4 linked regions of the Homo sapiens genome follow. The protein of the gene in region 3 purifies or fractionates together with the protein of the main gene of each other region. This does not show direct contact. Each region holds a gene or a part of one and is shown on either strand. Other genes may lie near its edges.

Evidence for each region. Proteins that work in one complex are often made in the same cells at the same time.
Region 1: the proteins of BSPRY (region 3) and DEAF1 purify together in Homo sapiens (affinity purification with mass spectrometry; 2 studies listed by BioGRID and IntAct, with this or other methods). This does not show direct contact.
Region 2: the proteins of BSPRY (region 3) and SRGAP2 purify together in Homo sapiens (affinity purification with mass spectrometry; one large-scale study listed by BioGRID and IntAct). This does not show direct contact.
Region 4: the proteins of BSPRY (region 3) and TMF1 purify together in Homo sapiens (affinity purification with mass spectrometry; 2 studies listed by BioGRID and IntAct, with this or other methods). This does not show direct contact.

The regions. Positions count from the first base shown.
Region 1 is NC_000011.10:643,733-646,977, forward strand, and holds the end of DEAF1 (deformed epidermal autoregulatory factor 1 homolog), read right to left. Parts: intron 2,824-3,245; coding exon of another isoform or gene 2,797-2,823; exon of another isoform or gene 2,600-2,796; intron 923-2,599; coding exon 818-922; 3' UTR 501-817; downstream 1-500. UniProt on the Homo sapiens protein: Transcription factor that binds to sequence with multiple copies of 5'-TTC[CG]G-3' present in its own promoter and that of the HNRPA2B1 gene. Down-regulates transcription of these genes.
Region 2 is NC_000001.11:206,451,541-206,455,040, reverse strand, and holds part of SRGAP2 (SLIT-ROBO Rho GTPase-activating protein 2), read right to left. Parts: intron 1,842-3,500; coding exon 1,661-1,841; intron 898-1,660; coding exon of another isoform or gene 885-897; exon of another isoform or gene 164-884; coding exon 17-163; exon of another isoform or gene 1-16. UniProt on the Homo sapiens protein: Postsynaptic RAC1 GTPase activating protein (GAP) that plays a key role in neuronal morphogenesis and migration mainly during development of the cerebral cortex. Regulates excitatory and inhibitory synapse maturation and density in cortical pyramidal neurons.
Region 3 is NC_000009.12:113,356,041-113,359,540, reverse strand, and holds part of BSPRY (B box and SPRY domain-containing protein), read right to left. Parts: intron 1-3,500. UniProt on the Homo sapiens protein: May regulate epithelial calcium transport by inhibiting TRPV5 activity.
Region 4 is NC_000003.12:69,035,334-69,038,833, reverse strand, and holds part of TMF1 (TATA element modulatory factor), read left to right. Parts: intron 1-113; coding exon 114-270; intron 271-3,500. UniProt on the Homo sapiens protein: Potential coactivator of the androgen receptor. Mediates STAT3 degradation. May play critical roles in two RAB6-dependent retrograde transport processes: one from endosomes to the Golgi and the other from the Golgi to the ER.

The DNA.
Region 1 (3,245 bases), on a different chromosome or scaffold from region 3:
ACACGCTGGACACGCCCCCTTGTGCCCCCCACAGGCTTCAGCCCTTTCTCCTCCACCTGGCGCCAGGGCCATGAGAAACAAGGGGGAGACCAGGAGGCCATGAGGCTCTGCGTGTGGATCCCTGGACCGAGGCCACCAAGCTGTCCACGTGGACTGAACAGGCCGTGCTGGACCGTCGGGCTCGCTCAAGCAGCCAGGGCACAGGAGGCACCATGTGCCCCGAAACCTGGCGGGAAGGGCCGTAGGCCTGCTGCACCTCCCAGCAGCCACGAGGGTCTCGTGGAACAGAAGGAACGAAGACCTCCTGGACTACACGAGCCACCAGACGCCAGGGCTTCAGCCCGGCCGCGCTGCCCCGTGCACCGGAGGCTCCGGCCTGGCCGCGCTGTCCCGTGCACCAGAGGTGCGGTGGGCTTGGTTTTCCCACCTGCGCAGTAGGAGGAAGGGGAGGAAACCCCCCCCCGAGGGCTGGCACTGCAACCGGCCGTGTGGGGCAGGGAGACCTTATTTACACTTTATTGACAGACACAACACGTATGTATGTGCGTCGCAGCACAGGCCCTGTGGGCAAGACCGGACGCTCATGATCCCAGGGATAAAAAATCTGTCCGCGAGCGGGCAGGGGGCCCGGGCAGGGGGAGTGCGCTTCCCAGGGCACCATTCGCTTAAAGTGTGTTAATGACTTGTCCAGCAAGTTTCTTTACCTTCCCACACCCCTCTTCTCAACGTCCCCCCAGAGTCCTCAGGGGGGCCTTCGACCTGCAAAAGCCTCACAGGAGTGCGAGGGGCCCCAGCTCCCAGGGCGGCCGATGGAGCCTCACACGGTCACCTTCTCCATCACGCTTTCAGCCACGTGGACTTCGTCTGCCTGGACGGTGACAGCTGCTGACTGGCCGCATATGTGCTGGTGATCCTTCCAGTCCTGGAAGGGAGGACACACCCATGTCAGCAGGGTCAGTGGGTGGAGCAGGGTCTGGGCAGGGTCCCCAAGGCAGACCCCAGAGGGTGCAGCCCTCTGTAACCTCACCTGGAGGTGCTGAGAATGCCCTCCCCAGCCCCCGTGCGCCCAAACTCTGGTGGGCTCTGCTCCAATACAGCCTTCCCCACACTCTCTTGGTTTGAGGAATTGGATCAAAAGGCAAACAACAGGCAGGGCACGGTGGCTCACGCCTGTAATCCCAACACTTTGGGAGGCCCAGGAGGGTGGATCCCCTGAGGTCAGGAGTTCGAGACCAGCCTGGCCAACATGGTGAAACCCCGTATCTACTAAAAATACAAAAATTAGCTGGGCATGGTGGCAGGCACCTCTAATCCCAGCTACTCGGGAAGCTGAGGCAGGAGAACTGCTCAGCCCTGGGAGGCAGAGGTTGCAGGGAGCCGAGATGGTGCCACTGCACTCCAGCCCGGGTGACAGAACAACTCCATATCAAAAAAAAAAAAAAAAAAAGTCAAACAACAAACCAGGGTAAGACTCTCCAAACCAGTTGTTTTGTGTTAGGGATGTAAACAAAAAATATCACACATGCAGAAAAACATTTAAATATGTAAATATTACATATGTAAATTACGATCAAGTTCTGTGGGGGTTTTTTTGTTGTTTTTCGGACAGAGTTTCGCTCTTGTTTCCCAGGCTGGAGTGTAACGCGCAATCTCGGCTCACCACGACCTCTGCCTCCTGGGTTCAAGCAATTCTCTTGCCTCAGCCTCCCTAGCAGCTGGGATTACAGGTGCACGCCACCACACCTGGCTAATGTTTTGCATTTTTAGTAGAGACAGGGTTTCACCATGTTGGTCAGGCTGGTCTCGAACTCCTGACCTCAGGGGATCTGCCCGCCTCGGCCTCCCAAAGTGCTGGGATGACAGGTGTGAGCCACTGCGCCCCGCCCCAGTTCTGTTTTTAATGGCAAAGATGAAAAAGCAAACTGGAACCAGCCCGTGGCTGCAGAGAAAGGAGGTGGGGGATGGTGCCTGGGAGAAGCCACAGCTCCTGTGAGGTCAGCACACAGAACCAGGCTCTGCCTCCCTGCTACGTCGAGCACCTCGGAATGGAGCAGAGCTCTAGAGGAAGCGCCAGGTGCTGAAGCTGAGACGGCCTCGTCAGACAGAGGCAGCTCCGTGCACGGGGGCGTGATAGGTACGTATATGACACACAGAGCAGAAATAAATGCTTCCAAATGGTGACAGAGTTATTCCCTAGAGAGCAGAATTCCAGCTGATTATAATAAAAGAGCAAAATTAGGCCGGGCGCAGTGGTTCACGGCTGTAATCCCATCATGTTGGGAGGCCGAGGTGGGCAGATCACCTGAGGCCAGGAGCTCGAGACCAGCCTGCCCAACATGGCAAAACCCCATCTCTACTAAAAATACAAAAACTAGCCGCCTGTGGTCATGCGCACCTGCAATCTCAGCTACTTGGGAGGCTGAGGCACAAGAATCACTTGAACCTGGGAGGCAGAGGTTGCAGTAAGCCAAGATTGTGCCACGGCACTCCAGCCCGGGCGACAGAGTGAGACTACGTCTCAAAAAAAAAAAAAAAAAAAAAATTAAAATTACCTGGTAATAGACTATAAATCTACATAGCATGAAAGCACATACATCAGCAAACTGCAGCATCGGGTGCAGACCCACCGCCCGCCCCTCCCGGGCCTCCACTCTGGGGCAACCAGGAAGGGTTCCGGTTCCTGCCGAGACTCTGTGTGGGGTGAGGGGCCTGCACCCCTCATGGGAGCTGCCCCCCGTGAGAGGATGTGGGCGGCGGACAAGGCCCCCAGGAGTTCTAGATGCTTCCTTCTCTGGTCTACAGGTTTGAGCCACTCCCTGGGGCCTGTGCAGATGGAGGGAGAGAGGGCGCACATCAGTGTTGACTCTGAGCTACAGAAGCTTCCATCAGGTTCTTCCAGCAAAGAGGCAAAGGCCCAGGGTTGACTTTTAAAATCAGAACTACTCAGTTCTTTTTTAAAGCAAATTTTTCCATCTTAAACATCAATGTGATGCTTCTTACAGTATAATGCTAAAACACTTTTGAAAAAAAAATCATTATCTGAAAAGCCAGAATTAGAAGTTAGCGTTTCAGTTTTTGAAAAACGGAAAAAAATGGTTAAATTCACAAGAAGCTAACAATGAAAGTGCCTGATACAAATAAATGAGAAAAGCCAACATCACAGACTGTAAAAACAATGACTTCGGGAGGTTGAGGTCACTTGAGGTCAGGGGTTGGAGACCAGCCTGAGCAACATAGCAAAACCC
Region 2 (3,500 bases), on a different chromosome or scaffold from region 3:
GAAAAGCAGAGCTTACTTGTTGATGTTTGCAAGATAAATATCGGCTACATGACCCCCACTGGGACAGCTGGCCCCCGCTCTGGCTGTCACCTTTTCTTCAGGTGGCTCAGAAATGACCTCAATCTCAGACTTGGGGCTGGACCTCTCCACGACACCGTCCTCGCTGGGGGAGAAGGGGCAGGCAGGCAGGGAGGAGGGAAAACAACAACAACACAAAAAGCAGCGTTAAATCGGCAAGATGGCCCCCCGACATACACGCGACCCCACACAGCTCTGAGGCAGCAGCGACACCTGGCTGGACTAGTTCTGTGAGCAGAGGCAAGGAAACCTAAGGGCCTTTGAAGGGTCGTTTAAATAAAAATAAATAATCCGCTGAGTTCTGCGGGCTCCTCAGCTCCTCAGGAAAGCGTGGCTAGGGGACACCTGGATTCGAGGCATCTGCCTTCTACCCCATGCTGCTTCCTGGGGAGGCCGTGCTGGGGCGGCCTCCTGGAGAAGGAGGCGGCAAGTCCAGGTTGTGGTTTATCGGCTGAGGTCCTGAGCACTGCCGGGTAAGGACAGTCAACTGTGTGGTGGCTCTGGAGACGGCGGCGTCGTGGCAGGACACCGCCACACACTGTCGTAGCGCCTCTAGCCCCGCTCAGAGCATCCAAGCCGGTCCCAGGTCTCTCCACTGCTCTCCTGGCCCCTCTGGCTACTGATGACAAAGAAAGCCCCTTCTCCCCCACAATTCATCTTCTCTTGATCCTGTGGTGAAGTCATAATGCTAAATTTGGGAGGGTCCTGTCCACGCACAGATTGCCACCAGGTTTGCGATGCTATCAACAGAGGGAGGATTTCCCTGCAGAACGAGCCGGGAAGAGGCTGGGAGGGTGCAGACTCACTCAGGATATCAACCTTTAAAAAATAATATTAAGGGAAGGACTAAAAACACTGACAGCATCGTATCCAAGGGAGGGGAGCTGGGGACAGAGACAGGGCAAACGGACAGGGGGCAGGCTTGGGTGGGCCCACGGGACAACTGCTTCAAAGTGTGAGAATCAACCAACAGCCTATCAGATGAGATCTCTCTGGGACCAGTTCAGGTTTCCTTTGTTCCTTGACATCCTTTTCCCTCCTTCCCCCATCTTACCCTATATCAACCTCATCTCGGTTAAATGAACTAGGTCACTTCCATAAGGCTGCTTAAGCCGGATTTCTCCTAGAAAACCAGTCATTTTAATTTGCAAGTGGAAGAGTGGCTCAACAGGTTGGGGTGAGCATAGTTGTTTAAAAAAAAAAGAGAGTAACAAAAATGTTTTCCCAGCCTGATCTTTCGAGAAAAGAAATATAGGTGGTCAAATAAAAACCCCTTGTTATCACTCATCAGGTATAAATATGGATGAGTGCTGGCTGGCTGGCAGGTTTCTAAAATGACTGGATTAGGGGGTGATTTGCAGGGGGCACAGATAGTGGAGAGATTTAAAAAAATTCTCCACTGAGTGCAGGGAGTGGGGCGGGGGGTGGGGGGGGTGCTCTTCAAGGAACTGTGTGAGCCTCAGGACTGCACTGGACCCCCCAGGGGTTGGCCTCCCTCATAGTCCTATGGCTCCAGAAATGAAGTCTCACTCCCATAGAGCAGCTGGGGACCACCCCCAAAGATGCCATGGGCCCAACGTACGTGTCTTGGACCACGATGTACTGATGGGGGATGAGTCCGTCGATGCCATTGTGCCGGCCTTCCCACCAGTCGTCGGAAGCCCGCTGGTAAAGCAGCAGGGATGCTCCCTTCTTAAAGGATAGCTCTCGGGCTGTCCGGCCCACGTAGTCAAACTTGGCAATGGCCTCGATGGGCTCACATTCTGAGAAGGGTGGAAAAGAAGTAAACACATGTTCTTGGGACCTGCAGACTCAGGAAACTGGGTGGAAAAGCTGAATTAGCTGAACTTACAGTGGTAGGAAATTACTTAGTGGGAAAACGAAGCCATGGATGATCTATAAAGCAAGTAATTCTCACGCAGACTATACCATTATCCTGAAAGCACTGGTATCACCTTTTACCTGCCTTTGCTCACACTGTTCCCTCCACCAGGAATCTTCTTCTCTCTTATCTGCCTGATGAAGCACATCAAAACACAACTCAAGCATCCCATTTTTTTTTTTTTTTTTTTTTTTTGGGATGGAGTCTTACTCTGTCGCTCAGGCTGGAGTGCAGTGGCTCGATCTTGGCTCACTGCAACCTCTGCCTCCCGGGTTTACGCGATTCTCCTGCCTCAGCCTCCCAAGTAGCTGGGACTACAGACGTGTGCCACCACGCCCAGCTAATTTTTTGTATTATTAATAGACGGGGTTTCACCATGTTAGCCAGGATGGTCTTGATCTCCTGACCTCGTGATCTGCCTGCCTCGGCCTCCCAAAGTGCTGGGATTACAGGCGTGAGCCACGCGCCCGACCGCATCCCCTGCTTTCTACAGTAACTTCTTTGGTGTTTCCAAAGATCTTCATGCCTTGACGTCTATCATCAAACTTGCCATACTATATTTTTAAGCATTATTTCTTTTCTAATTATATAATAATTCCAGTAATTGTAGAAAATGTATCATACATTTTTTAGAATACATACATGTATTCTAAATATTTTATGTTATCCATTCCCCCTAGTAAGTAGAATGTGAGCTTTCTGTCTCTCTATAAAGAGAAAATAACTTGCTCAATCAACTTTCCAAGGAGCAAAATATGAAAATATATTTTGTGACCAACCTATGAAAAAAATGCACATGAAAGTAATCTAAAAAAGTAAAAGGGGTCTACGAATGCAATCTATCTTTATTTTTGTGTGGGCTTCTGTCTCCTCATCTGTAACATGGAGATTAATAATCGTGTCTTTTTCATGAAGTTGTTATGAAGAGTCAATGAATTACAATTTGTAAAAGTGCTTAGAACAGTGTCCCGCCCATAGTAAGTGGTATGTGTGCATGACTTATTGTTATCATTATCTTCGTCTGTGCTAGGCTGCAGGTAGAGATCAAAGAGCAAAGAGAAGGCTCCCAGAAAGCTGGAACCTGAGATGAAAGTCGGCTATTCTGGGAAGCAGAGAGAAAGGCTGCTTAAAAATAAGACCATGCCTAGATGGCCCTAGCTGGTGGGTCTGCTCCTGCACAGGAGGGGTTGGAGATTTCACTATAGGAGGCTGGTCAGAGAAGGCCTGTCTAAATATACCCACCTCAGTTAGTTCTCTACAGCCTCGGGTACGTTACTCGACCTCCCTGACCTGCATTTTCTCAACTGTAAAATAGCGGCCATATCTTTTTCACTACAGATTAAGAGATAACATATATAAAGCCTCTAGCAGAGCTGGCCACGAGGTAGGCTCTAACCCACTACTCATTTTCCTAGTTCACCTACTCCCCTCCTCGAATGTAGCAAATGATCATATGGATCCTTATGACATCAGGATCTAAATAAGCAGTCCTATTTTTTTTTTTTCTCCTTTGAAAGCTGGCCTAGAATTGCAGAATTCC
Region 3 (3,500 bases):
GCCTCCTTCATGTCAGAAAGTCAGGGACAGCCAGCAGCTTTCCCTATGCCCTGTCCCTTAAGACCTGCTTTGTACAGTGCACAGGGCAATCATTCCTATTTTACAGAAAACACTGAGACCCACAGTTTGCCTTACAGGGAGGAGAGACTAGCTAAGTGAATGGCAAGTGAACCCAGAAGGTAAGACTCCAAGTTTATAGTGTGCTCTTGAGGCAACATAACATAGTGGTCAGGAAATTAAGCTTTAGAGGTAGTGTGTAGATTTAAATCTTAACTGCTCCGCTCATTAGCTGTGGAACTTAGAACATATTCCTTATCTTCCCTATGCCTCTATTTTCTAATCTGTAAAATGAGGATAATAATAGTACCTACCTCATAAGGCTATAGTGAGGGTTAAATGTGTTAATATATATAAAGTAAGTAGAACAAAGCCTGCTACATTATGTGTTCAATAACATTCATTCACTATTGCTCTTCTTTATCTTTTTTTTTTCTTTTCTTTTCTTTTCTTTAAGAGACACAGTCTTGCTCTGATGCCCAGGCTGAAATGCAGTGGCACAATCATAGCTCACTGCAGCTTTGAACTCCTGGGCTCAAGCGATCCTCCTGCCTCAGTCTTCCAAAGTGCTGGGATTACAGTCATGAGCAACTGCATCCAGCCCACGATTATTCTCCTGTTTATCCCACTTTAATGCCTTACCCACAGGGTGAGCCCCTGAAACCATGGTTGTACTGTGTGATCCTGGATCAAAACAGATCCTCACCCAAGATGAATCAGATTCTGATTCCTGCCTAAAAGACTCTAGTCATTCTCAACAAGTTTGTTGAGCCATTCCCAGAAAAGGAGAGCAAAGAAAAGAAAAACTTCCCTTTCCAAACACATGACAGAGAGTAGACAAACCAAAAACCCTCTCAGAATAAAGTAGAGAAATGCTGGAAAAATAGCCCAAGCATCCTTTTAAAAGTGTGGTTGTGGCTGGACACGGTGGCTCATACCTGTAATCCCAGCACTTTGGGAGGCTGAGGCAGGTGGATCACCCAAGGTCAGGAGTTTAAGACCAACCTGGCCAATAAGGTGAAACCCCGCCTCTACTAAAATACAAAAATTAGCTGGGCCTGGTGGTGGGAGCCTGTAATCCCAGTTACTCAGGAGGCTGAGGCAGGAGAATTGCTTGAAGCTGGGAGGTGGAGGCTGCAGTGAGCTGAGATCGCACCACTGCACTCCAGCCTGGGTGACAGGGCAAGACTCTGTCTCAAAAAAGAAAAAAAAAGAGGTTTTTATTTTTTGTTTTTTGAGACAGGGTCTCGCTCTGTCACCCAGGCTAGAATGCAGTGATGCAATCATAGCTCACTGCAGCCTCAAACTCCTAGGCTCAAGTGATCCTCTCACCTCACCCTCCCAAATAGTTGGGACTATAGGCCCATGCCATCATGTCTGGATAATTTTTTAATTTTTTGTAGAGATAGGGTCTTGCTATATTGCCCAAAACAGTCTCGAACTCCTGGGTTCAAGTGATCCTCCTGGCCTTGGCCTCCCAAAGTGCTGGGATTATAGGCATGAGCTACCATGCTCAGCCCAATGAATAAGCTTAATAGAGATATATATATATATATATATATATATATATATATATATATATATATATATATATATAGAACTCTACAGGCCAGGCACAGTACCGGGTCATGCTGGTAATCCAAGCAGTTTGGGAGGCCAAGGCAGCAGGATCACTTGAGCCCAGGAGTTCAAGGCTGCAGTGAGCTATGATTGCGCCACTGCATTTCAGCCTGGGCAATGGAGTGAGACTTTGTCTAAAAAAAGAGAAAGAAATAATAATGAAATTAAGACAAAGATACAAAAGAGTAGACCAAAAATACTAGAAGCTGGTTCTAAAGACTAACAGTCAAACCTGTGGCAACTTTGATCAAAACTAAGAACAACTTTATCTTAAGTAAACCCTTAAGAAAAAAGAGTTCTGTTTTCCAATCCATTGAATAAGGCTCACATAACCTTGATACCAAATCTGATGAGGACTGTACAAGAAATGAAATTCATAGACTAATCTCACTCCTGAGCATACAAGCAAAAATCCTAAAACAAAAATAAAAAATGCTTTACTGAGATTAGCAATCCAAATTCAGAAATTTTGTATTAATAATACAAGGGGATAGGAAAGGGTACATGTGGCTATAAAAGGGTAGCACAAGGAGTCCTAGTGATGGAACTGTTCTGTATTTTAATTGTGGTAGTAATCACATGAATCTATGCCTGTGATAAGATAGTTAAATAAATATACACCATTTGAGAGCAGTGATCTCTCCCACCTCCTTGGAACCCATGCTGGGACACTCTGCTCTCTTAGTTTACTTCCGTTTCATTAGCTGATTTCTTGGTCCCCGTTCGCTGGTTCCTTCTGTCTTCTCAATAGGAGGTGAAGTGCCCTAGGGCTCAGTCTTTGGACCGCTGCTCTTTCGTGTCTACACTCATTCACTTAGTGATGTCATCCTCTCCCACGGCTTTCAATACTATTTATACACTGATAAATCCCAAATTTATATCTCCAACCCAGCCCTCTCCCAACTCATATATGCAGCTACCTACTCAGCACCTTCACTTGGATGTCAAATAGGTATCTCAAACATAACATGCCCACAACAACTTAGCATGCCTGCTCTCCCCCACTCCCCTCCCTGCCTCCGCCAACCATCACTCCACATGCAGTCCTTCCCCCACCCAGTTCATGGCTGCTCCATCCTGCCAGTTGCTCAAATAAAAAAACTTCAGCATTATCCTGACACCTCCCCTCTTTCTTTCATAGCCTACATCTAGTCCATCAGCAAATCCTGTTGCCTCTTCAAAATATATGCAGAATCTAGCCACTTCTCACTAGCTTTGCCACCATTGCTTGGGTCCAGACCACACTTGTTTCCCACCTGGATTATTACAATGGCTTCCTAACTGGTCTCCCTGCTTTAACCTTTGCCGCCTATAATCACTTCTAAACATAGCAGCCAAAGTGTTTCTTTCTTTTTTTTTTGAGACAGAGTCTCGCACTGTTGCCCAGGCTGCAGTGCAGTGCGCAGTCTCAGCTCACTGCAACCTCCGCCTCCCGGGTTCAAGTGATTCTCCTGCCTCAGCCTCCCAAGTAGCTGAGAATACAGGCGCCCGCCACCATGCCCTGCTAATTTTTTTGTATTTTTAGTAGAGACGGGGTTTCACCGCGTTAGCCAGGATGGTCTGGAACTCCTGACCTCGTGATCCACCCGCCTCAGCCTCCTAAAGTGCTGGGATTACAGGCATGAGCCACTGCGCCCAGCCTCAACCTTCTTAATGAAGTCATTCCTGGTCACAGCACATGTAATTGCAACCCGTCCTATTCCCCTTTCTGTTTTATATTTCCCCATAGCACATATCACCTTCGGACATAACATAGATTTTGTTACTGTCCCTCTTCTGTGACAAGAATGTAGGCTTCATGAAAATAGGAATTTCTGTTTTGT
Region 4 (3,500 bases), on a different chromosome or scaffold from region 3:
TGAACAAATATGCAACCCATTTAGAATGAATTATCAGAGTAGGATGTTGAAGAAATACTTTTTCTATTATCTGATCACTGGCAACATTTATAAACTCAATCTAATTTTTTAAGAGAACTTACTGATCTTCACAAAGCCAATGCTGCAAAGGATAGTGAGGCACAGGAAGCTGCTCTGAGCCGTGAAATGAAAGCTAAAGAAGAACTTTCTGCAGCATTAGAGAAGGCCCAAGAAGAAGCCCGTCAGCAGCAAGAAACATTAGCCATTCAAGTAAGCAATGGATGATGAATTAGAGTAGTTTTAAAAATATTTGTTTATGCTTCTACAAATTAAACAATTAGCTGGTTTGAATCAAACAATGTAGTGATACATGTGTTAGATTTCAGAGTACTGGATTCTGCTAAATTTAACCAGTTGTGTTTTTTAAAACTGTTAAAGTAATGCTTACGTGATACCAGTATTGTTTAATTTTTTTGAGTTTTAGACCCATTTGAGAGTATTATAAAAGCTAGGAACCCTCTTAGAAGAGAAGAGCAAAAATGCACATACATATTGCATATAATTTTGAGAGAATCCATTTAACTCCTGAGCTCATTCATAACATCTGTGGGAGTCCAAGGACCTCAGATGAAGTAGGAAAAACAAAATTTGTGAGGCTTTGTCTTATCAAATCATCAGTTGATGGGCATATGGGTTATTTATACTTTGTGGTTATTATCAATAATGCTGCTTTAAATATCCATGCACAAATTTTTGTGTGAACATATATTTTAAATTCTCCTAGATATATATCCTTAGGTCATATGGTAACTCTATATATTTAACTTTTTGAGGAACTGGCAAACTTTTCCACAGTGGCTGCATTACTTTACATTCCCACCAGCAATAGGTGAGGGTTTCAGTTTCTCCACATCCTTGCCAAGATTTATTATTGTCTGTTTTTAAAAGTATAGCCTTTTTAGTGTGTGTGAAGTGGTAACTGAGTATGGTGTTGATTTGCATTTTTTTTTTTCAATTTATATATATTTTTTGAGACAGAGTCTCACTCTTGCCAGACTGGAGCACAGTGGCACGATCTCAGCTCACTGCAACCTCTGCCTCCCGGATTCAAGCAATTCTTCTGCCTCAGCCTCCTGAGTAGCTGGGACTACAGGCAGGTGCTACCATGCCTGGCTAATTTTCTTTTTTTGTGAGACAGAGTTTCGCTCTTGTTGCCCAGGCTGGAGTGCAATAGCGCAATCTCGGCTCATTGCAACCTCCACCTCCCAGGTGCAAGTGATTCTCCTGCTTCAGCCTCCCGAGTAGCTGGGATTACAGGTGCCCACCACCATGCCCGGCTAATTTTTGTTTTTTTTTAGTAGAGACGAGGCTTCACCATGTTGGCCAGGCTGGTGTTGAACTCCTGACCTCTGGTGATCCACCCGCCTCCGCCTCCCAAAGTGCTTGGATTACAGGCATGAGCCACCATGCCCGGCCACCCTGCTAATTTTTTTTTGTATTTTTAGTAGACATGGGGTTTCAGCGTGTTAGCCAGGATGGTCTCAATCTCCTGACCTCGTGATCCGCCTGCCTTGGCCTCCCAAAGTGCGGGGATTACAGGCGTGAGCCACTACGCCCGGCTGATTTGCATTCTCTTAATGACTAATGATGTTGGATGTCTTTTCATTTGCTTATTGGCCATTTATGTATCTTCTTGGGAGAAATTAATTAAAATATTCAAATCCTTTGCACATTTTTAAATTGGGCGGTTTGTCTTTTTATTGTTATTATGAGTTCTTTGTATAATCTGCATACTAGACCTTTATCAGATATAGGATTTGTCAATATTTTGTGCCTCTCTGTGGGTTGTCTTTCTTTTTCTTGATAGTGTCCTTTGATGCCAAAAGGTTTTAATTTTAACAAAGTCTAGCTTATCTATGTTTTCTTTTGTTATTTGTGCTTTTGGCATCATATTTAAGAAACCATTGCTTAATCCAAGTTTATGCAGATCTTCATCAGTTTTCTTCTAAGAGTTTTGTAGTCTTAGCTCTCACATTTAGGTCTTTTGCATGTGGATATCCAGTTGTTGCAGGACCAGTTGTTGAGAAAACTATTTTTATTGACTCCTATGCCCTTTTGATTTAATTTTAAGTTTTGTATGTGTAAAACATTTACATGATTCCAAAGTGAGAGCAAAATCTATTCAGACATTTACTTCCAATTTAGCTGCTCCCCATTTCCTCTCTTTGCCTGTAGGTAACCATTTTATTAGAGTTTGGCTTATCTTTTCAGTGTTTCTATTGGCAAAATGCAAGAAAATATATGTATCTATATACTTACATGTTCTGCGTACATACACATTCGCTTATACACCTATTTCTGTCTCCTACATCCTTTTTACATAAATGACAGTTTATTATTCACACTGTTTTATAACTTGTTTTATTTTCTTAGTAAAATATCCTGATGATCACTCTAGTAAAACATAGAGGTTTTTAAAAAATATCTTTTTACAGTTTTATAATACTTCATTAGGTGAAGGATTTTCAGCTCTTTCTTATTGATAGATTATACACCTATTTCTATCTCCTACATCCTTTTTACGTAAATGATAGTTTATTGTTTATACTGTTTTATAACTTGTTTTATTTACTTAGTAAAATATCCTGATGATCACTCTAGTAAAACATAGAGGTTTTTAAAAAATATCTCTTTACAGTTTTATAATACTTTATTAGGTGAAGTATTTTCAGCTATTTCTTATTGATGGATATTTGGGTTATTTTCAGTATTTTGCTATTATAAGTCATGCCATGGTCCATATATCCTTTGTGTTTCTGCTGGGATAGATAAAATATCAGTAATTTAAATTTAAAATACGTTAGAATAATAATAATACAGAAAAATTGGGGGAATGGGAGATAGAGCATATATGAGTTACCATGCATAAATCCATCACTTTTTCCAAGTACTGTCAGTTTTGTGTGTTAGTGTTTCATTCTATTCCCATATATGTGTTTTTCATAATTGATGTCTTACGTGTTATTTTATAGTTTTTCCATTTAATAGTATATTAGAAATTTTTTTTACATGTTTTATACATTTATTGTAATTTTTAATGGTTATATTCATGTTGTATCGACATTTGCAACTATAGATTACTAGTGATGGAGATTTAGAATATTTCCAGTTTTGTTTTTGCTAGCCTATTTAATACTGTAGGGAATATCCCTGTGTATTTACGTATCTGCTTTCTTAGAGTGAATTCCCAAGACTAGGATGGCCCGGTGAAAGGATGTGAGAAGTTTGATGATTCTTTAAACATATTATAACGTTTTCCAAAAAGGCTATGGTAGTTTATAATGTATGCTCCTGCATATGAGTGGAGCCCCCAGCTTTTATAATCCGTATAGCACCTATCACTTTCTGTGTGATGTGGCAAATATTTATAGACGCACTGTCTTTTCTCCAATATTGTATGGTAATGGCTATGCCTTATACATATTTGTTTGCGTTTCTTT